4 separate regions of the Homo sapiens genome follow, and regions 1, 2 and 3 are each linked to region 4. The links come from fine-mapping of genetic effects on gene expression. A gene starts in region 4. Each other region holds a variant in brackets. All regions are shown on one strand. Distances are between the middles of the regions. Region 1 overlaps FCGBP (Fc gamma binding protein). Region 2 overlaps FCGBP (Fc gamma binding protein). Region 3 overlaps FCGBP (Fc gamma binding protein). Region 4 holds the start of FCGBP (Fc gamma binding protein).

Region 1 (5,146 bases), 35 kb after region 4:
CAGGCTGGAGTGCAACCTCCGCCTCTCGGGTTCAAGCTCACTGCAACCTCAGCATCCCAGGTTGAAGCAATTCTCTTGTCTCGGCCTCCCGAGTAGCTAGGAGTACAGGCACGTGCCACCACACACGGTTAATTTTTTTGTATTTTGGTAGAGGTGGAGTTTTGCCATATTGGCCAGGCTGCTCTCGAACTCCTGACTTCAAGTGATCCTCCTGCCTTGGCCTCCCAAAGTGCGAGCATTACAGGCGGGAGCCACCACAGCTAGTCCACTCAGTCTCTTCAGTGTCTCTTGTACCCACTCCTTTCCCTGTCCCCATGGCCCTCCCTTGGTCCAGCTGGTCCTCTCCTACCTGGGTCCCTCCCAGCTCCTACCTCTGCTCCCTCTGGTCCACCCTCCACGTGGCAGTGGTAAAGATCTTTCTAAATATGACCACGGGCTCTGAAGCTTTAAACCCTCCCCTGACTCCCCAGGTCAAGTTGTGGCTTTGCCTTCCAGGTCTGGACGAAGGGAGCCTTTCTGACCACAAAGACAAGATTTCCATGTGTTATACCAGCTGCTAACACCCTCTACTTCCCTCTCCCACTCTGTCCCCGTAGGTCCTTTTTCTTTGACTGGAGCATGTGTTTGTCTAATGTCCATCTCCCTTGGGGACTGTGAGCTCTCCTAGGGGTGGAACCCTCTCTCTGTTGTTCTCCTCACATAAATAATATTAATAATAACAGAAAATGTGTAGATAGTGCTTACTATGTATCTGGTACCGTTTTAAGTGCTATGTGTGCATATTTTTATATATGCATTACATATCTAAAAACTTTTTATTCTGAAAACGTTCAAACATGCAAAAATTAAGAGAATAGTGGAATGACTGTCCATGTACTTACCCATCACTTAGCTTCAAAAATAAGCCATATTCTCCCGATCTTGTTTGATGTCTACCCCACGTATCTCTCCTATCTGAATGTTTTAAAGGAAACCCTTTTCTGTTTTTGTTTTTTTTTTTCCTTGAGATGGGGTCTCGCTCTGTCACTCAGGCTGGAGTGCAGTGGCGCAGTTTTGCCTCACTGCAAGCTCCGCCTCCCGAGTTCACACCATTCTCCTGCCTCAGCCTCCCGAGTAGCTGGGACTATAGGCGCCCGCCACCACGCCCGACTAATTTTTTGTATTTTTAGTAGAGACGGGGTTTCACCGTGTTAGCCAGGATGGTCTCAATCTTCTGACCTCGTGATCCACCCGCCTCGGCTTCCCAAAGTGCTGGGATTACAAGCATGTGCCACCGCGCCCGGCCTACCCTTTTCATTTTATCTGAATTTTACATGTCTGAATATAACTTGGTTATTATCTGAATATAACTTGGTTATTATCTGAATATAACTCAGTTATATTTCCAAAGGCAGGCGCTACTATCATCTGCAATCTGCAGATCATGAAACTGAGCCATAAAGAGGTGAAGTAACTGCCCAGAGTCACACACTTTGGAAACAGCAGAAACGGGCTTCAAGCCCAGGCGATCTGCCCTTAGTTACTGTGTCACACCATTTCTCCTACAGCAGACGTTGAGTGGATATTTTGGAATGAATGAGTAAATGAAGAAAAGTGAATGAACCAATGAATGATGGCCCCAAAGCCATGCTGTGCCTCAGCTTCACAGACAAGGGGCCATCCTGCTGAGAGATGTCCCTTGTCTGTGATGTCTGCCAAACCCCTCTGTGCCAGAACGCCAGAGATGTGAGAGTCGGCTCCCACCCGTGGTGTCCCTGATGGCCGTTCCCTCTCTCCCCACAGCCGGAGCAGACAGTCCTCATTGACAACTGTCGGCAGCAGTGCACGTGCCATGCGGGTAAAGTCGTGGTGTGCCAGGAACACAGCTGCAAGCCGGGGCAGGTGTGCCAGCCCTCCGGAGGCATCCTGAGCTGCGTCACCAAAGGTGCTGGGCTGGGCTGGGCTGGGACTGGGGCTGATGGGACTAGGGATGGAGGATGGGGACTCTGGGGCTGAGGGTAGTGTAACTGGGGTGTCCATGGCGGGAGGTGTACAGGACTAATGATTGAGGTTGCAGACCTGGGGAACCCTAGACCAGGTTTCACAGGGCCAGGGCCACCTACTTTGGGAGGTAGGGACCCTTAGGGAAAATCCAGGCTGTGGGGACCCTCAGAGATAGTTTTCTCAGGGTGGATGTCAGAGACCCTCGGTATAAGGCAGGGACAGGCGCGCCTTTGCTCTAATGTGCTACATGGTAAATGTTTAAGCTCGCAGGCTGTAGGTTCTCGTTCCAGCTACTCACTCTGCCACTGTGGCATGAAAGCAGCCGTAGACTATGTAAGTGAAGAGGTCAGGCTCCTATAAGACTTTAGAATACAAGAGCAGCAGCCTAGGGGGCCATCATGAGCGGAACACTGATGTGTGGGATTGG[A/G]CTTGGGGTTCAGACACTAGCACCAAAGGGCAGGGGAGAGACTGGGATCCCAGGGGCAGGGACAGAGAGCAGAGTTCTGAGTCTCACGCACGGAGACCTCACCAAGGCAGGACATTGGATATGGGGACCCCTCTTAACTGGAAGATCAGGATTTCTGGGGGTATAGTCTCTGATGTGGGAATCCCCCAGACTAAATCTGGGACACAGCCACCCCCAGGGCTCATTTCTTAGGGTGAAGAGCAGAGAACTCTCCTCCCCCTAAGGATAAGAGAATGGGAGCTCCAGCACCAAGGAGTGGGGGCTAAGACTCTCAGGGCTGATGAGCAGGATAATGGGGACTCCCAGAAATGGGGGGTATATCACTCAGCATCTAGTCGAGAGACAGAAAGCGTATGGCCATTTGAATGAGGAAAGTTTAATTAAAGAATCACTTACTTATTAATAGGAGATTAACTATTAAGGGTAAAGAGGGTCTGGTGCCGTGGCTCACACACCCAGAACTTTGGGAGGATCACTTGAGGCCAGGAGTTTGAGACCAGCCTGGGCAACATAGCGAGACCCCTGTCTCCACAAAAAATTGAAAATTAGCCAGGTGTGGTGATGCGTGCCCGTGGTCCCAGCTATTTAGGATGCTGAGGTAGGAGGATCAGTTGACCCCAGGATTTCGAGGCTGCAGTGAGCTATATGATTGCACCACTGCTCTCTAGCGTGGGCAAGACAGCAAGACCTTGTCTCTTTACAAACAAACAAATAAACAGAAATAAGAAACGGTAAAGAGAGCACTAAAGAATACCACCAAAGCACACACAGGAAGTAGCCGCCACTCTAGGGCTAAGGTAAAAGCCTCATGGAAGGGAGAAATTGGCCCCTACTCTTCAAGGAGGGGAGAATCAGCCCCAAGGCTGAGTCCAGTCTCACTGCAGCTGTAGCCCACTGGGTGGCACAGAGGTTTCTGCAGGCTGGACTTGGCAAGAAGGGAACCCCTCACTGGGAAGCCAGCTGCGGCCAGTGGCACTCGCTGAATGTGGCCCCGCACCCTGGCCAGAGCTGGAAGGACCAAACTGGCTAGAAGCCAGACCAGGAGACCGTCCCTCCTGCAGTGACTCTCCGGCGCCCTCTGTTGACAAAGCTTAACTCCGTGGGTGTATTTGAAGCTGAGAGGCGGTACATAGATAATGGACACAGGAGGAAGGAGACGTTTGAAGGCTGGCCTCTCCCACACAGGGGTTCCGCAAGCTGGGGTCACAGATGTAGTAACTGTACGAACAGGGTCTCGGACACAGAAACCCCCCAGGACAGGGCCTCAGCAGTGAGACACGATCAAGGCTACTGTCTTGAATACAGCAACCCTCAGGGATGGAGTCTTGCACTGAGGGAGCCCAGCCCATGAGACTTAGCTAGTTAGGGTCTCAAACATTTCAAATCCTGCTGAGACCCTGGCACTGGGCTCTTGCCAGAAGATCACCCCAGGGCCCTAGTCTTGGGCACAGAGGCCTCCAGGACCTAGAGAAATTGGAGACCAATTTCTATCAAATGTGGAGATGTCCAGGGGGCTGAGGTCTCAGGCATGGGGGACCCTGAGACCTAGATCTTTTTTTTTTTTTTGAGCTAAGGTCTCACTCTGTGGCCCAGGCTAGAGTGTAGTGTAGCTTACTGCAGCCTCGATTTCCTGGGCTCAAACAATCCTCCCGCCTCAGCCTCCCGAGTAGTGGGGGACTACAGGCACACACCACCACGCCTGGCTAATTTATTAATCTTTCTGTAGAAATGGGGTCTTACTATGTTGCCCAGGCTAGTCTCAAACTCCAGGGCTCAAGCTATCCTCCCACCTCAGCCTCTTAAAGTGCTGGGATTACAGGCCTGAGCCACCACACCTGGCCTGGGGCCCAGGTCTTGAACACAGAGAACCCTGGGGCTGGGATCTCAGACATGGATGCTCTCAGGGCTGGCATCGCAGACACAAGGACCCCTGGGGCACAGATCTCAACTGGGGTCAAGTGCACCTTTTCTCTAAAGGGCTAGATGGTAAGTGTTTAAGCTTGCAGGCTATACCTTCTGGATCACAACTACTCACTCTGCCACTGTGGTGTGAAAGCAGCCGTAGCCTATGTAAGTGAAGACGGTGAGGTTCCTATAAAACTTAAAATACAAGAACAGGGTGAAATCTCAAGCAAGGGCACCATGGAAAGTGCACCTTAAACACAGACCCAGAGCCTTGGTCTTTACCTTGGTCTTAGGTGCGTGGACTCCAGGATCTCAGTCTCACACAGCAAATGGCAGGGCCTCAGTCTCAGAAGTAGGGGAACTCTAGGTACTGGGTCTTGGCTGTACAGACCTCTGGGGCCCAGGTCTCAGGTATGGGACCTTTGACAGCCGAGACTTAGACACAGTCCCCCATGGGGCCTCAGTGTCAGCTGTGTGGGACTCCCAGGGGCTGGTCTTGAAAATAGCAGGCTGGGCATGATGGCTCATGCCTGTAATCCCAACACTCTGGGAGGCCAAGGTTGGCTGATCACTTGATGTCAGGAGCCCGAGACCAGCCTGGCCAACATGGTGAAACCCTGTCTCTACTAAAAATACAAAAATCAGCCAAGCATGCTGGTGGGCACCTATAATCCCAGCCACTCAGGAGGCTGAGTCAGGAGAATCACTGGAGCCCAGGAGGCAGAGGTTGCAGTGAGCCGAGATTGTACCATTGCTCTCCAGCCTGGGTGACAGAGAAAGACTCCATCTCAA
Region 2 (5,146 bases), 64 kb after region 4:
TCACCGTGGACGGCGAGGCTGTGGCCCTGCCTGTGGCTGTGGGCCGCGTGCGGGTGACCGCCGAGGGCCGAAACATGGTTCTGCAGACGACCAAGGGGCTGCGGCTTCTCTTTGATGGCGATGCCCACCTCCTCATGTCCATCCCCAGCCCCTTCCGTGGACGGCTCTGTGGCCTCTGTGGGAACTTCAATGGCAACTGGAGTGACGACTTTGTCCTGCCCAATGGCTCAGCAGCGTCCAGTGTGGAGACCTTCGGGGCTGCATGGCGGGCGCCCGGCTCCTCCAAGGGCTGTGGCGAGGGCTGCGGGCCCCAAGGCTGCCCAGTGTGCTTGGCAGAGGAGACTGCACCCTATGAGAGCAACGAGGCCTGCGGGCAGCTCCGGAACCCCCAGGGCCCCTTCGCGACCTGCCAGGCGGTGCTGAGTCCCTCTGAGTACTTCCGCCAATGCGTATACGACCTGTGCGCGCAAAAGGGTGACAAAGCCTTCCTGTGCCGCAGCCTGGCAGCCTACACGGCGGCCTGTCAGGCAGCTGGCGTGGCCGTGAAGCCCTGGAGGACAGACAGCTTCTGCCGTGAGTGTCCGTGGGTCCCTCGCAGGACTCTAGACCAGGTGTAGGGGCCCCTCCTGGCCCATTCCTTCTATTTGCATGTCGGAGTGGTTTCTCCCTGTAAAAGCGCTCCCTCCCCACCCCCTCCCACCCCACACCCACACAACTTCTTCTCCCACGGCATAGTCCACTGGCTTCCCTGCTATCCCTCTGACTGTTCCTTCTCAGCCTCCTGTCTGGGCCCACTCTGCTCAAACCTCAAATTCTCTTCTTCCCTAGTGTTCTATTCTGGACTCTTTCTGCAGTGACCTGAAAGGGAGAGTTGGATGGGTTGGGAGATCTGTGGCTCACACAGACCCTCCTTCTACCCCCGACAAGACCATATCCCCTCAGATCCCCCCAAGACAAGGCTGCAGGCTATTAAACACCCCGCTAAACTAGGACTGTACCTCTCATTCAATTCCCCATGGGAGGGACATCACCAGAGACTCTCAGGAAAAAGCAATGGCCCCTTCGGCTCCAGGTCAGAGCCAGGTCTCCCCTGGGCAGGACCTATACCCAGGGCGGTCATCCACACCCGCGGCCTTAGATTTGTTCTCATTGTTGACCATGGACCTGGTCTGTCTGTCTCAAGCCCTGAACTCTCTCCTGACTGTCAGCCCAGTGATCCTGATTTCTGACTTCTGGCCTTCAGAACTGTGGGAGAATGAATTTCCCCTGTTTAAGCTACAAAGTCTGTGGTAATTGTTAGGGTGTCCAAGACACCTTCCCCTGGGTGTCCTTACCGTCCCTCTTACCTGCTGTGTTCCCAAATAAAATCAGCATTTCACCCCCAGCCTGATGCTCCTTCCCCAAACCTGGTGGGCATTGCAGAACAGCCACACCTCCACCAATTGCTTAGCCAGAGACCAGGGACTTACCACAGATAATTCCCTTGGGTCCATATAGCCCCTGTCCCAACTCTGACCCCTCTGCCTGTGCCCCCCTATCCCAGCCCTGACCCCTTTGCCTGTGCCCCCCACACCCTGGCCCTGACCCCTCTGCCTGTGCCCCCTACCCAGCCCTGACCCCTCTGCCTGTGCCCCCTACCCCGGCCCTCAACCCTCTGTGTGTACCCTCCCCATCCCGGCCCTGACCCCTCTGCCTTTGCCCCCCCACCCCAGCCCTGACCCCTTTGCTTGTGCCCCCAACCCCAGCCCTCAACCCTCTGTTTGTGCCCTCCCCATCCTGGCGCTGACCCCTCTGCCTGTGTGCCCCCACTCTGGCCCCGACCTCTTTGCCTGTGCCCCCGACCCTGGTCCTGACCCCTCTGCCTGTGCCCCCTACCCTGGCCCTCAACCCTCTGTCTGTGCCCTCCCCATCCCAGCCCTGACCCTTCTGTCTGTAGCCCCCTACCCTGGCCCTGACCCCTCTGCCTTTGCCCCCTCATGCCTGCCCTGACCCCTCTGCCTGTGCCTCCCCACCCTGACCCTGACCTCTCTGTCTACACTCCCTGATGCAGCATGTTCACTTTGGGCTCTTCCTGTCTGTCCCACTGGAAGTGAGCTCTGTAGGACTGGGGTTGAGACTTTTCTCAGTATTTGTGTCCTCAGCACCGCCTAAAACAGGGCTGGGTGTGCAGTAGGCCCC[C/A]TTGGTTATCCAGGACCCTTTGGAGGTGTGACTCAGCCCTGCCTCCTCTCTCTGCAGCGCTCCATTGCCCCGCCCACAGCCACTACTCCATCTGCACTCGCACCTGCCAGGGATCCTGTGCGGCTCTCTCCGGCCTCACGGGCTGCACCACCCGCTGTTTTGAGGGCTGTGAGTGCGACGACCGCTTCCTGCTTTCCCAGGGTGTCTGCATCCCTGTCCAAGATTGTGGCTGCACCCATAATGGCCGATACTTGCCGGTGAGTAGGGGCTTGGGGTGGGCAGAGAGGGTAGAAGAGCTTGAGAGAGACCCAGAGATTCTGTGCTGACCTCTTCAAGGCTGGGGACAGAGGAGGTACCGCCATATCCCAGCTATGTGACTTGATGCAGGCAACCTCCCCCTATTAGTCTCCTGCAGCTTCTGTAACCAATTACCGCAGACATGGTAGCTTAAACAGGAGAAATTCATTCTCCCACAGTTCTGAAGGCCAAAAGTCAGAAATCAGGAATACTGGGCTGACATCAAGGTGTTGGCAAGGTGGCACTCCCTCCAGAGAAATCTAGGGGAGGCCATGCCCAGTGGCTCATACTTGCAGTCCCAGCCCTTTGGGAGGCCAAGGCGGGAGGATCACTTGAGCCCAGGAATTCAAAACCAGCTTGGGCAACATACAATTGTTTTTTTAATTAGCTGGGCATGGTGGTGCACACCTATAGTCCCAGCTACTCAAGAGGCTGAGGTGGGACAATGGCGTGACCCCAGGAGTTGGAGGCTGCAGTGAGCTATGATCACGCTGCCGCACTCCAGCCTGGGTGACAGAGCAAGACCTTACCTCTAAAGAAAAAAGGAAAAGAGCCAGGCACGGTGGCTCACACCTGTAATCCCAGCACTTTGGGAGACTGAGGCGGGCGGATCACGAGGTCAGAAGTTCAAGACCAGCCTGACCAACATGGTGAAACCCTGTCTCTACTAAAAATACAAAAATTAGCCGGGCATGGTGGTGCGTGCATGTAATCCCAGCTACTCAGGAGGCTGAGGCAGGAGAATCACTTGAACCCAGGAGGCGGAGGTGGCAGTGAGCCGAGATTGCGCCACTACACTCCAGCCTGGGTGACAGACCGAGACTCCATGTCAAAAAAAAAAAAAAAAGAAAAGAAAAGAAAAGAAAAAAGAAATCTAGGGGAAAATCTGTTTGTTGCCTCTTCCAGTTGCTGGTTGCTGCAGGTTTTCCTTGGTTGTGGCCACATCACACCAACCTCTGCCTCCTCTTCTGAGTGTGTCATAACACCTCCCTCTGCTTCTCTCTTATAAGGATACACGTGATTGCATCTAAGGCTCACTCAGATAATCCAGGAGAAATTTTCCATCTTCAGATCCTTAATTCAATCACATCTGCAAACACACTTTTCCCATATAAGGTGACATTTACTCATTACAGGGATTAGGACCTGATATCTTGGGGCGGGGGCATCATTTGGCCCCTCCTTGAACTGCATTTTCTTCACCTGTAAAATGGGACTAATCACCATCTTTGTACCATAGGTATCTGAGGATCAGGCCCGATTATACAGGAAAGATACCCACTGAGCACTGGGCCTTGCCCTGCATGTTCATCACACTCAGTAAAAAGAAAGAGCAGTTTACAGCGGGGCGCAGTGGCTCACACCTGTAATCCCAGCACTTTAGGAGGCCAAGGCGGGCGGATCAAAAGGTCAGGAGTTCGAGACCAGCCTGGCCAATATGGTGAAACCCCGTCTCTACTAAAAATACAAAAATTAGCTGGGTGTGGTGGTGGACACCTGTAGTCCTAGCTACTCGGGAGGCTGAGGAAGGAGAATCCCGTGAACCCGGGAAGTGGAAGTTGCAGCGAGCCGAGATTGTGCCACAGCACTGTAGCATGAGCAACAGACCGAGACTCCATGTCAAAAAGAAAAAAAAAGAAATAGCAGTTTACAACAGTGCAAATAGGTAGCCCAGCTAATAATTGTTTAATAATATGAATTAAATTGAAGAATTGATTTATTCTTGTTAATAATTTTTTTGAGCTCTTACTATGCACCATGTTTGTTATGGGTGTTATTATTTATTTATTTATTTATTGAGATAGGATTGCACTCTGTCTTTCAGGCAGGAGTGCGGTGGCATGATCACGGCTTACTACAGCCTCAAACTCCTGGGCTCAAGCGATCTTTCTGTCTCAGCTTCCTGAGTAGCTGGGACCACAGGCTCACACTGCCATCCCTGGCTGACTATTTAATTTTTATGTAGAAATGGGATCTCGCTATGTTGTCCAGGCTGGTCTCAAACTCCTGGGCTCAAGCAATCCTCCTGCCTTGGCCTCCTAAAGTGCTGGGATTACAGGGATGAGCCACCTCTCCCGGCCATGTTCTGGATGTTAATTCATTTAATAATCACAACAATCCTATGCAATAGATACTATGACTATTTTCCCCATTTTACAGATGAAGAAATTGTGACATAGAGAAGTCAGCCCGAGGCTAGCCATTAACATGCAGCACTAACTTGCATTGCTTGCAAATGGAGCCAAATTTTGCTCTTTCCTTGAGGTCTCACTGCCTACTGGAAGCCATCCTTGATCCCCTAGGCTGGGTTAGGTGCCTCCTCTGAACCCCTCAGCTCCCTATGCTTCCCCATCTCTGCCCTGACCCCTCTGCCTATGCCCGAAGTCTTGGATTTGTGAGTCTGGCCTTCATGGGAGAGGTCTGGCCTAGAGATGTGGAAATCATCATTGTAGAGATGGCATTTATTTTGTTAATTACATTTCTTCATTTCTTACCTGTATCAGTTAGCTTTTGCTGGGTTACAGATCACTCCAAAACGTTGTGGCTTAAAACAATTATTCATTTAGTTTGCAATTTTGTGACTGCAGTTTAGGCTGGACTTGGCTGGGTGGTTCTTCTGCTATCCTCTGGGCTTACTCATGTATAATATCTGTAGTCAGCTGGTGGGTCA
Region 3 (5,146 bases), 44 kb after region 4:
TTAAGTGCTGACCGCTGTGTTCCCCTCAACAACGGCTGCGGCTGCTGGGCCAATGGCACCTACCACGAGGCGGGCAGTGAGTTTTGGGCTGATGGCACCTGCTCCCAGTGGTGTCGCTGCGGGCCTGGGGGTGGCTCGCTGGTCTGCACACCTGCCAGCTGTGGGCTGGGTGAAGTGTGTGGCCTCCTGCCATCCGGCCAGCACGGCTGCCAGCCCGTCAGCACAGCTGAGTGCCAGGCGTGGGGTGACCCCCATTACGTCACTCTGGATGGGCACCGATTCGATTTCCAAGGCACCTGCGAGTACCTGCTGAGTGCACCCTGCCACGGACCACCCTTGGGGGCTGAGAACTTCACTGTCACTGTAGCCAATGAGCACCGGGGCAGCCAGGCTGTCAGCTACACCCGCAGTGTCACCCTGCAAATCTACAACCACAGCCTGACACTGAGTGCCCGCTGGCCCCGGAAGCTACAGGTGAGGAGGGCTGTGGGCCAGACAGGAGCAAGTGCCAGCTCTGGGGTTGCCTGAGATGGTAAGGGCTTCACCATTCCCCTGGGCCCCTTTCACAGCTTAGCTGGGGCATGATGGAAGGGTCAGAGTGTACGCCTAGGAGCCTGATGGCTTGGCACAGCAGCTTCTTCCTCTGTGAGCCTAGTGTATTCCTCTGTAAACTGGTCTAGGAAAAGTACCTGTTTTCGAGAAGGATAAGGAGTCAGTGACATGAGCCAGTAGAGGCTCTTTGTTTTTCTTTTCTTTTTTTCTTTCTTGCTTTTCTTTCTTTCTTTCTTTCTTTTCTTAGCCTGACTCTGTTGCCCAGGCTGGAGCGCAGTGACAGGATTAGGGCTCACTGCAGCCTGGAACTCGTGGGCTGAATCGATCCTCCCGCCTTGGCCTCCACCTCCCAAGTATCTGTGACTAAAGGCACACGCCACCACGCTGGCTAATTTTTCATTTTTTTGTAGAGATGGGGGTCTCACTATGTTGCCCAGGCTGATCTGAACTTCTGGCGTCAAGCGATCCTCCCATCTCGGCCTTCCAAAGTCCTGGGATTGCAGGCTTTGCCACCAGGCCCGGCCTATAGATGCTCATTATTATTTTCAGCGGGAGGTGACATGCTCTGGGTCCCACAGCTAGTAGGTAGTGGGGCCAGGATTCAAACCCGTGTTTGCTCCGTTCACCGCTCCCCCACTGCCCACAGGTGGACGGCGTGTTCGTCACTCTGCCCTTCCAGCTGGACTCGCTCCTGCACGCACACCTGAGCGGCGCCGACGTGGTGGTGACCACAACCTCAGGGCTCTCGCTGGCTTTCGATGGGGACAGCTTCGTGCGCCTGCGCGTGCCGGCGGCGTACGCGGGCTCTCTCTGTGGCTTATGCGGGAACTACAACCAGGACCCCGCAGACGACCTGAAGGCGGTGGGCGGGAAGCCCGCCGGATGGCAGGTGGGCGGCGCCCAGGGCTGCGGGGAATGTGTGTCCAAGCCATGCCCGTCGCCGTGCACCCCAGAGCAGCAAGAGTCCTTCGGCGGCCCGGACGCCTGCGGCGTGATCTCCGCCACCGACGGCCCGCTGGCGCCCTGCCACGGCCTTGTGCCGCCCGCGCAGTACTTCCAGGGCTGCTTGCTGGACGCCTGCCAAGTTCAGGGCCATCCTGGAGGCCTCTGTCCTGCAGTGGCCACCTACGTGGCAGCCTGTCAGGCCGCTGGGGCCCAGCTCCGCGAGTGGAGGCGGCCGGACTTCTGTCGTGAGTACTGCTCCATGCATGGTCCACATGGTTGGGTCTCTCCCTGCCCTTCCCAGGACTGTAGGACAGCAGCCCCTTCCTCCTCCATGGGGCTCAGGGGCCACTTTCCTTCCCGAGCTCGGTATCTACTGTCAGGAAACACCTTGGCACTGACACACTGAAATGCCCCAAGTCAGGTACTGCAGTGAGAGAGAGTCAGTTAGAAACACCTAGTCAGAGTGTGGG[C/T]GCGGTGGCTCACGCCTGTAATCCCAGCAATTTGGGAGGCCGAGGCGGGCGGATCACCTGAGGTCAGGAGGTCGAGACTAGCCCGGCCAACATGGTGAAACCCCACCTCTACTAAAACTACAAAAATTATCCGGGCGTGGTGGCGGGCACCTGTAATCTCAGCTACTCAGGAGGCTGAGGCAGGAGAATCACTTGAACCCAGGAGGCAGAGGTTGCAGTGAGCCGAGATCGTGCCACTGCCCTTCAGCCTGGGTGACAGAGATTCCATCTCCAAAACAAAAAACAAACAAACAACAAACAACAGAAAAAAAAAAAGAAAGAAAAGAAACCTGGGGTCCAGGACACTCTTAGGGATTGGTGATCCATGCTTTCAGGTATCCAAGGCATGTAGATTGGGATGGCTGACCCTGCCTCTGTCACATAGCAAAGTACCCCTTGTTAGGAAGACCTAGTGAGTTTCAGCTGGTCAGAGGGCCCAGGTCTGTTGCACACACTGAAATACACCTAGTCACATGGAATTAGTCGCATACCTTCAGTGATATCTGCTTAAATTTTATACTGACTGGTCAGATACACTCAGAAAGAAACAGGATCCTGGCATAGCCTTGGGCAGATCCACACAGATGCATAGTTAGATAGTCCTAGGCGGTTCCCTTCAGGCAGGTCTCCTGGTCACAGGTATCCTGCCAACTTCACCCAGGCACAGCCTTAGGCAGACCATGTCAGAAGGACTCTGGGAGATGCTGCATGTCAGACACCCACAGCTGGGTGCCCTCAGGCAGAGCCATACCCTGAGATACATGTGGCCCCACACCCCAGTCACATTCACACGCTGAGATGCCCATAGTCAGTTCTGATCCTGCATACCCCGAATAGATATAAGTGATCCATTTCACCCAGGTAAGCCTGGCTTACATAGTGAGACCCCATCTCTACAGAAAATAATAATAAATCAGCCAGATGTGGTGGCTTACTCCTGTAGTCCCAGCTAATCGGGAGGCTGAGGCCAGAGGATTGCTTGAGGTTTAGGTGGAGGCTGCAGCGAGCTGTGATTGCGCCTCTGCACTCCAGCCTGGGTGAGATAGAGTGAGAGCCTGTCTCAAAAAAAAAAAAAAAAAAAATATCAGCCAAGCAGAGTCATTTGATCTTCAGAAATATTTGGTCAGAGAGACCTGGGCATGTCCCCTCCCATTCCAGGTCCCACGCTGAGTCCCCCAGTTAGATGTCCTGGATCACATGTGCATGCCCAGAGACGCCCAAGTTGGCCTGAGCAGTTTTCCCACTCAGGGCCTCCCAAGACTGCGACTCAAACACCTACCTGGCTGATGCCCACCTTGTCCCCACAGCCTTCCAGTGCCCTGCCCACAGCCACTACGAGCTCTGCGGTGACTCCTGTCCTGGGAGCTGCCCGAGCCTGTCGGCACCCGAGGGCTGTGAGTCGGCCTGCCGTGAAGGCTGTGTCTGCGATGCTGGCTTCGTGCTCAGTGGTGACACGTGTGTACCTGTGGGCCAGTGTGGCTGCCTCCACGATGACCGCTACTACCCACTGGGCCAGACCTTCTACCCTGGCCCTGGGTGTGATTCCCTTTGCCGCTGCCGGGAGGGCGGTGAGGTGTCCTGTGAGCCCTCCAGCTGCGGCCCGCATGAGACCTGCCGGCCATCCGGTGGCAGCTTGGGCTGCGTGGCCGTGGGCTCTACCACCTGCCAGGCGTCGGGAGATCCCCACTACACCACCTTCGATGGCCACCGCTTCGACTTCATGGGCACCTGCGTGTATGTGCTGGCTCAGACCTGCGGCACCCGGCCTGGCCTGCATCGGTTTGCCGTCCTGCAGGAGAACGTGGCCTGGGGTAATGGGCGAGTCAGTGTGACCAGGGTGATCACGGTCCAGGTGGCAAACTTCACCCTGCGGCTGGAGCAGAGACAGTGGAAGGTCACGGTGAGAGCAGATGGGGAGCAGGGGGCGAGGGGCCTGTGGGTAGGTGGGGCACAGGCAGCGCTCAGCCCAGGAGTTGGGGGCACAAGAGATGAGAGTGCATGTGCGAGGCCTGGGGTCTCTGAGGACAGAAGATGCCAGTCAGAACCGAGTGGGAAGCCAATGAGGGAGGTGTCATCAGGGACTTGGGAGCTGCTCCCCCATCTCTGTCCCTCAGTCTCCACCCTCTCTTTACCTCCATGCATTGACTTTTCTCTCCAAATTTCTCCCACCCTCTCCTCCCTCCCACTCCATCCTCTCTCCACCTCAGTCCTGGATTCTGCCCTACTCACCTCCCTAGTCTGCCACTTATTGGCAGGACGTGGTGCCATCAGAGGTTGAGAAAGTCCGAGTTTGAGAAGCTTCATGGACAGAGGACAATCTGTGGGTGACACTCTCACCGCCTTAACAACAACAACAGCAGCTATAGTTTCTATACAGCTGACTGCACACCTTTTGGCTGCCAGGCACTTCACGTCCATGGTGTCTGTATGCTTGCAACAGGGACTGCAGGCACTATGACTTGCTTTATTTTTCAGAGTGGGATGGCCCATCACTGGCCCATAGTCCCCCAGCAAAGGTGGAGCTTGAACCCCGTGCTGCTCTGCAGTGCTTTTCTTACTGAGAAGATTTGGTCTCATGTGGAGACTGGCATCTGAGTTACAGTGGAGGGGTTTCCCCTGAGATCCCACTGAAACAGACACGCAGCTGTTTTTCTAGTGGCAGTATTGGCGAAGGTGCTGATCAATTACTGACTTAATCTGGCGAACTGGACAGGCGTGACTTTTTTTTTTTTTTTTTTGGCACAGAGTCTGGCTTTGTCACCCAGGCTGGAGTGCAGTGGCGCGATCTCGGCTCACTGCAACCTCTGCCTCCCTGGTTCAAGTGATTCTCCTGCCTCAGCCTCCAGAGTAGCTGGGATTACAGGTGTGCAACACTATGCCCAGGAAATTTTTGTATTTTTAGTGGGGACGGGTTTCACCATGTTGGCCAGTCTGGTCTCCAACTCCTGAGCTCAGTGATCTGCCGGCCTCAGCCTCCCAAAGTGCTGGGAATAGAGGCATGAGCCACTGTGCCCGGCCGACATGCAGGACTTAATTGAATATATTCCCTAATGTTTCCCAAGCTCCTAGAATAGCCCCTGACATACAGCGCCTAAATACACAGGAGTTGTTGATGTTCTTGTTAGTTGCTTCTTACTGAA
Region 4 (5,146 bases):
CCACACTCGGTTTATTTTTATATTTTTTGTAGAGAAAGGGTCTCACTATGTTGCCCAGGCTGGTCTTGACCTTGTGGCCTCAAGTGATCCTCCTGCCTCAGCCTCCCAAGTAGCTGGGACTACAAGCGTGCACCACCGTGCCTGGCTAATTTTTGTATTTTTTTGTAGATACAGGGTCTCACTATGTTGGTCTTGAACCAGGCTGGTCTCAAACTCATGGCCTTAAGCAATCCTCCTGCCTCAGCCTCCCAAAATGCTGGAATTATAAGCTGAGCCACTGCGCCTGGCCTCAGACAGAGAATTTTCACATCTTGGTTTGCAATTGCTGTTTCCTCCTAGGAATCCCGACGTCTCCTCCTCCGAGTCCTTCTCTGTCTCAGGGACCCAGCAGCCCCTTCCACCAACTTTTAGACCCCTCAGGGACCCAGGCATCCTTTTCCCAAAGCTTCCACTTCCTGTGGGTCCCCTGCCCCTGCTTGTTTCTTGTTATCTCTGGCTTTTAGCCAGTCTCCTATTTACTCACCTCATTCTCCTGGTTGACTTTATGTCCCAGTCAACTCTTAGCCTTTATCTTTCCCTCCAGGAACGTTTCTTGGGTGGGCGTGGGGATTGGTTGGAGCTCCAGGGAGAGAGAAGCCCCCCACCCGCTCTGGCCTCCCAGAGGCCCAGGCTGCTGTGATAAGAGAGGAGGAGCCCCAGGGGCAGCAGCTGCTAGGGTGTTGGTCCAAGAGAGCACCCAGGCTTTGCAGCTGCTGGTCCCAGGGGAGACTCCCCCAGCAAACAATGAGATCCTGAGTCAGGGAGAAGGCAGGCAGGGCATGGGTCAGGCCAGCCCCTCAGAGGAGCTGACTCCAGCTGAGAAAGCCCAACTTTCAGCTCATTCTTCTGCTCCTTGTGTGCAACCTAGACCTCCACCTCCCATCTCAGGCAAATTCTGGGGTGATGGAGAGGCACAGAGTCCCCTAAACCTGTTCAGCTAGCCCCTGCTAAGAGCAAACCCTCCCTACACACAAAAAAACTCCAAAACCAACAGGTCCTGGCTCTTCCTCAGTCCTCACAGGCTGGGGAGTCCCTGGCCACCTATATCCTGTTTCCAGCACCACTGAGGAGCAGGTGTCTGGGATCAGAAGTAGAATCTGGGTGTCTGTGTGGAACCAGGAAACAGAGGCCATTGTCCCTTCTTCACACACCGCCTCAGTCCCAGTGCCCACCTGCAGCCTGGCCTGCGCCCACACCAGAGGAGGCTGCCCCCCAGCTCTACAGTCCTTGAGAATTTTTTTACATCTCTGGGACGTAAAGATGCCCAGAGAGGCTGGTTTTGGTGTTCCCATTTTGCAGATGAGAAACCGCAGACGCCCCACTGGGCTGCGGTGGAGGTCTTGTGTCCCACTCCATAGCCTCAGACTCCTGCCCATCCCAGACACCTGCCCCTAGTGGTGTCTGGAAGCAGGATGTGGGTGGCTAGGGACTCCCCAGCCTGTGGGGACTGAGAAGGAACCAGGACCCGGATATGGGTCCCTCACTGTTGTTCCTGGCAGGAGCCAAAGGAAGGAACCTAGCCACTAAGCCAGCAAATATGACCACATGCCACCTCCCACCCTCACTGCCCACACCCCCACCCTACCCCACCTCCACCCAGGGACCCAGGTGCTCATCTGCCTGCTCCCCAGCTGTCTCCCTCAGGGACCCCACCCTTCCAGGACCAAACTCTCCAGAAGGCTTCCAGGGAATGGCCACCAGCTGTCCTCACTCCCTTCTTGGAACCCAGGCATCCAGAATCACTGTCCCTCCTTCCCAGGCCTTCACAGTTTCCCATTTCATCTGGCCATGAGGATGGCAGCCTCCTCCAGGAAGTTGGCATCATCTGCCTGGCACGTGGCCCAGGGTGTGGCCCAGAAACTCCACTATATAGCCCTGCCACAGGGCTGGCCCTGCAGCTCCAGGGACCTGCAGGTGAGAAGGGCTGGGGTCCCCTTTGGAAGTGGGACAGCAGGTCCCCTACTCTTGCCCCTGACTGTAGGCCTCCTCATCCTACCCCTAGACCCACAAGACAGCCAACTCTCCACCCCGTCCCTGGCTTCTGCCCTCCCCAACCCACCTCCAGACCCGCTGGACAGCCAGCCTCCCCTATACACACACACTGGTCCTTGGATCCATACCCCCTGGCCCAATCTGCCCGACTTCTTTCCCCACCTCAGCCTTCATGGTCCCAGGTGGCCCTTGTCATGAGAGTGGGCCCTTCTGCCCAGGACAGTCTCCAGCAGAGGCGGTGGATCAGCCTTCTATGATCCTTTCTCTTTTCCTACTGCAGCCATGGGTGCCCTATGGAGCTGGTGGATACTCTGGGCTGGAGCAACCCTCCTGTGGGGTAAGTCAGACCAAGACCCTCTCCATGTCCTTGTTCCAATCTGGGGAACTCTGCGTGGGTCCACGCCTTCCATGTGTGCCTCCTCCACATGTCACCCCAGGCTAGCTGAGACAGGAGAGAGGCCCTTAGGCTCTGCAGGGGGATGTGGTAGAATTCACCAATTCTCACCCTTTTCTGGATGGGAGCACAGGCAAAAACCTTAGTCCCCAAACTCAAGTGTGCAAGAACTTTCTTGGTTTTCTGCAACTCAACTAAGGTTTTGACTCTGAGCCTCATTCTGCTAAGTTGATGGAAAATTTCACGAAAGTCATTCTTGGAGGGTGTTGTCCCCACTTCTCCCAGGGATGTGTCCAGAACTAAAATTTTGGATAAAGCCAAAGTACTGGGGGGAGGATGGGATATGAGGACCCTCTCGTCACCAGTCAGCATCCATCTAGGTTACTTTTGAAATGTCCATTGTTCCTGATCCCCTGGCCCCCTGGGATATCCTTCAAAGCCCCCTTTATATGGAAGGTGGTCATTCCATAGCCCCCACACTCTCTTCAAGATTCCTTAGACCTCTCTCTCCTCAGCCCCAGGGACGCTCTTCCTAGTTGGGGGTGGTCAGAAGCCCCCACTGCCATCTATTTCTAGGAGACAATTCATTCACCCTTCCATAATCCCCTTCTTCTCTTTATCCCCTTTTCACAAACCCCCAAGTCCCATTATTATTATTATTATTATTATTATTATTATTATTATTTGAGATGGAGTTTCACTCTTGTTGCCTAGACTGGAGTGCAATGGTGTGATCTCAGCTAATTGCAACCTCCACCTCCTGGGTTCAAGCGATTCTCCTGCCTCAGCCTCCCTAGTAGCTGGGATTACAGGCGCCCCATGCCACCATGTCCGGCTAATTTTGCATTTTTAGTAGAGATGGAATTTCACCACGTTGGTCAGTCTGCTCATGAACTCCCGACCTCAAGTGATCCACCCGCGTTGGCTTCCCAAAGTGCTGGGATTACAGGCAAGAGCCACCGCGCCTGGCCCCCACAAGTCCTATTAAGACAAAAACCAGCTGGGTACAGTTGGTCACGTCTGTAATCCCAGCACTTCGGGAGGCTGATGCAGGAGGATCACTTGAGCCCAGGAGTTCAAGACCAGCTTGGGCAACAAAGTGAGACCCTGCCTCTAGAAAAAAATTAAAAAATGAGCCAGGCACACAGTGCGTGCCTGTGGTCCCAGCTATACCAGAAGCTGAGACAGGAGGATCCCTTGAGCCCAGGAGGTTGAGGCTGCAGTGTGTTGTGTTTAAGCCACTGCACTCCAGTTTGTAAAAAGATGGAAATCATACACTGGCAGCAGAGTACATCCACCTTGAGCCCCAAAGTGCTTAAAACAATTGTGGGTTGGAGATTTCACATGAAAATTCAGATAGCCACATTCTCTTTAAAAACAGAAAGAACGGCCAGGCGTGGTGGCTTACGCCTGTAATCCCAGCACTTTGGGAGACCGAGGCAGGTGGATCACCTGAGGTCAGGAATTTGAGACCAGCCTGGCCAACAGGGTGAAACCCCATCTCTACTAAAAATACAGAAATTAGCTGGGCGTGGAAACCGGGAGGCAGAGGTTGCAGTGACCCAGGATCGCGCCACTGCACTCCAGCCTGGGTAACAGAGTGAGACTCCATTTCAAAAGAAAAAAAAGAAAAAATACAAAAGTTAACTGTGCCTGGTGGCGCACACCTGTAGTCCCAGTACTCGGGAGGCTGAGGTGGTAGAATCACTCGAACCTGAGAGGCAGAGGTTGTGGTGAGCCGAGATCGTGCCACTGCACTCCAGCCTGGGTGACAGAGCGAGACTCCATCTCAGAAGAAAAAAAAAAAGAAAAACAGGAAGGTCTTACAATTTAAAAAAGCTCACATTCTTTCATTATAACAGGTGAAAGCTAGTACCAACAATCCACTTTTTTTTTTTTTACTAGTTTATATATTTTTAAAATTTTTAATTTTTATGGGTTTGCATTTATGGGGTACCTGTGATATTTTGATACAGGCATACAGTGTGTAATGATAAAATCAGGGTAACTAGGGCATCCCTCACTTCAAGCATTTGTCATTTCTTTGTGTTAGGAACATTCCAATTCCACTCTCAGTTATTTTAAAATATACCATAAATTATCGTCAACAATAGTCATCCTGTTCTGCTACCAAATACTAGATTTTATCTATTTTATCTAACTGTTTAACTGTATTTTTGTACCCATTAACCATATCTACTTATCCCCCAGTCCCCGCTACACTTTCCAGCCTGTGGTAATCATCGTAACCATCATTTTACTCTCTATTTCTATGAGTTCATCAGTTAAAAATTTTAAATTCCCATCTATGAGTGAGAACATGTGAAATTTGTCTTTCTATACTGGCTTATTTCACTTAACATCATGTCCTCCAGTTCCATCCATGTTGTTGCAAATGACAGGATCTCATTCCTTTTTTTTTTTTTTTTTTGAGACCGAGTCTCACTCTGTTGCCCAGGCTGGAGTACAGTGGCGCGATCTTGGCTCACTGCAACCTCCGCCTCCCAGGTTCAAGTGATTCTCGTGCCTCAGCCTCCCGAGTAGCTGGGATTACAGGTACATGCCACCATTCCTGGCTAATTTTTGTAGTTTTGGTAGAGACAGGGTTTCACCATGTTGGCCAGGCTCGTCTTGAACTCCTGACCTCAAGTGATCCACCTGCCTTGGCCTCCCAAAGTGCTGGGATTATAGGTGTGAGCCACTGTGCCGGGTGATCTCATT

What was found.
Region 1: its variant is fine-mapped to the expression of FCGBP in whole blood (Lepik 2017, PIP 0.95).
Region 2: its variant is fine-mapped to the expression of FCGBP in CD8 T cells (Kasela 2017, PIP 0.95).
Region 3: its variant is fine-mapped to the expression of FCGBP in whole blood (INTERVAL, PIP above 0.99).

The regions. Positions count from the first base shown.
Region 1 is chr19:39,896,334-39,901,479 of GRCh38, reverse strand. It overlaps FCGBP (Fc gamma binding protein), which reads left to right. Exons shown (of 36, transcript NM_003890.3): 18 at 1,783-1,924. Among named protein-coding and RNA genes, the nearest start is that of FCGBP, 36 kb to the left of the region's middle. The variant A/G (reference allele first, on the strand shown) is at 2,411.
Region 2 is chr19:39,867,505-39,872,650 of GRCh38, reverse strand. FCGBP (Fc gamma binding protein) reads left to right here. Exons shown (of 36, transcript NM_003890.3): 32 at 1-573; 33 at 2,236-2,435. Among named protein-coding and RNA genes, the nearest start is that of FBL, 24 kb to the right of the region's middle. RefSeq lists an enhancer at 5,023-5,146. The variant C/A (reference allele first, on the strand shown) is at 2,179.
Region 3 is chr19:39,888,239-39,893,384 of GRCh38, reverse strand. FCGBP (Fc gamma binding protein) reads left to right here. Exons shown (of 36, transcript NM_003890.3): 21 at 1-474; 22 at 1,199-1,742; 23 at 3,314-3,906. Among named protein-coding and RNA genes, the nearest start is that of FCGBP, 44 kb to the left of the region's middle. The variant C/T (reference allele first, on the strand shown) is at 1,968.
Region 4 is chr19:39,931,786-39,936,931 of GRCh38, reverse strand. FCGBP (Fc gamma binding protein) reads left to right here and starts at 2,298. Exons shown (of 36, transcript NM_003890.3): 1 at 2,298-2,368. The coding sequence starts at 2,314.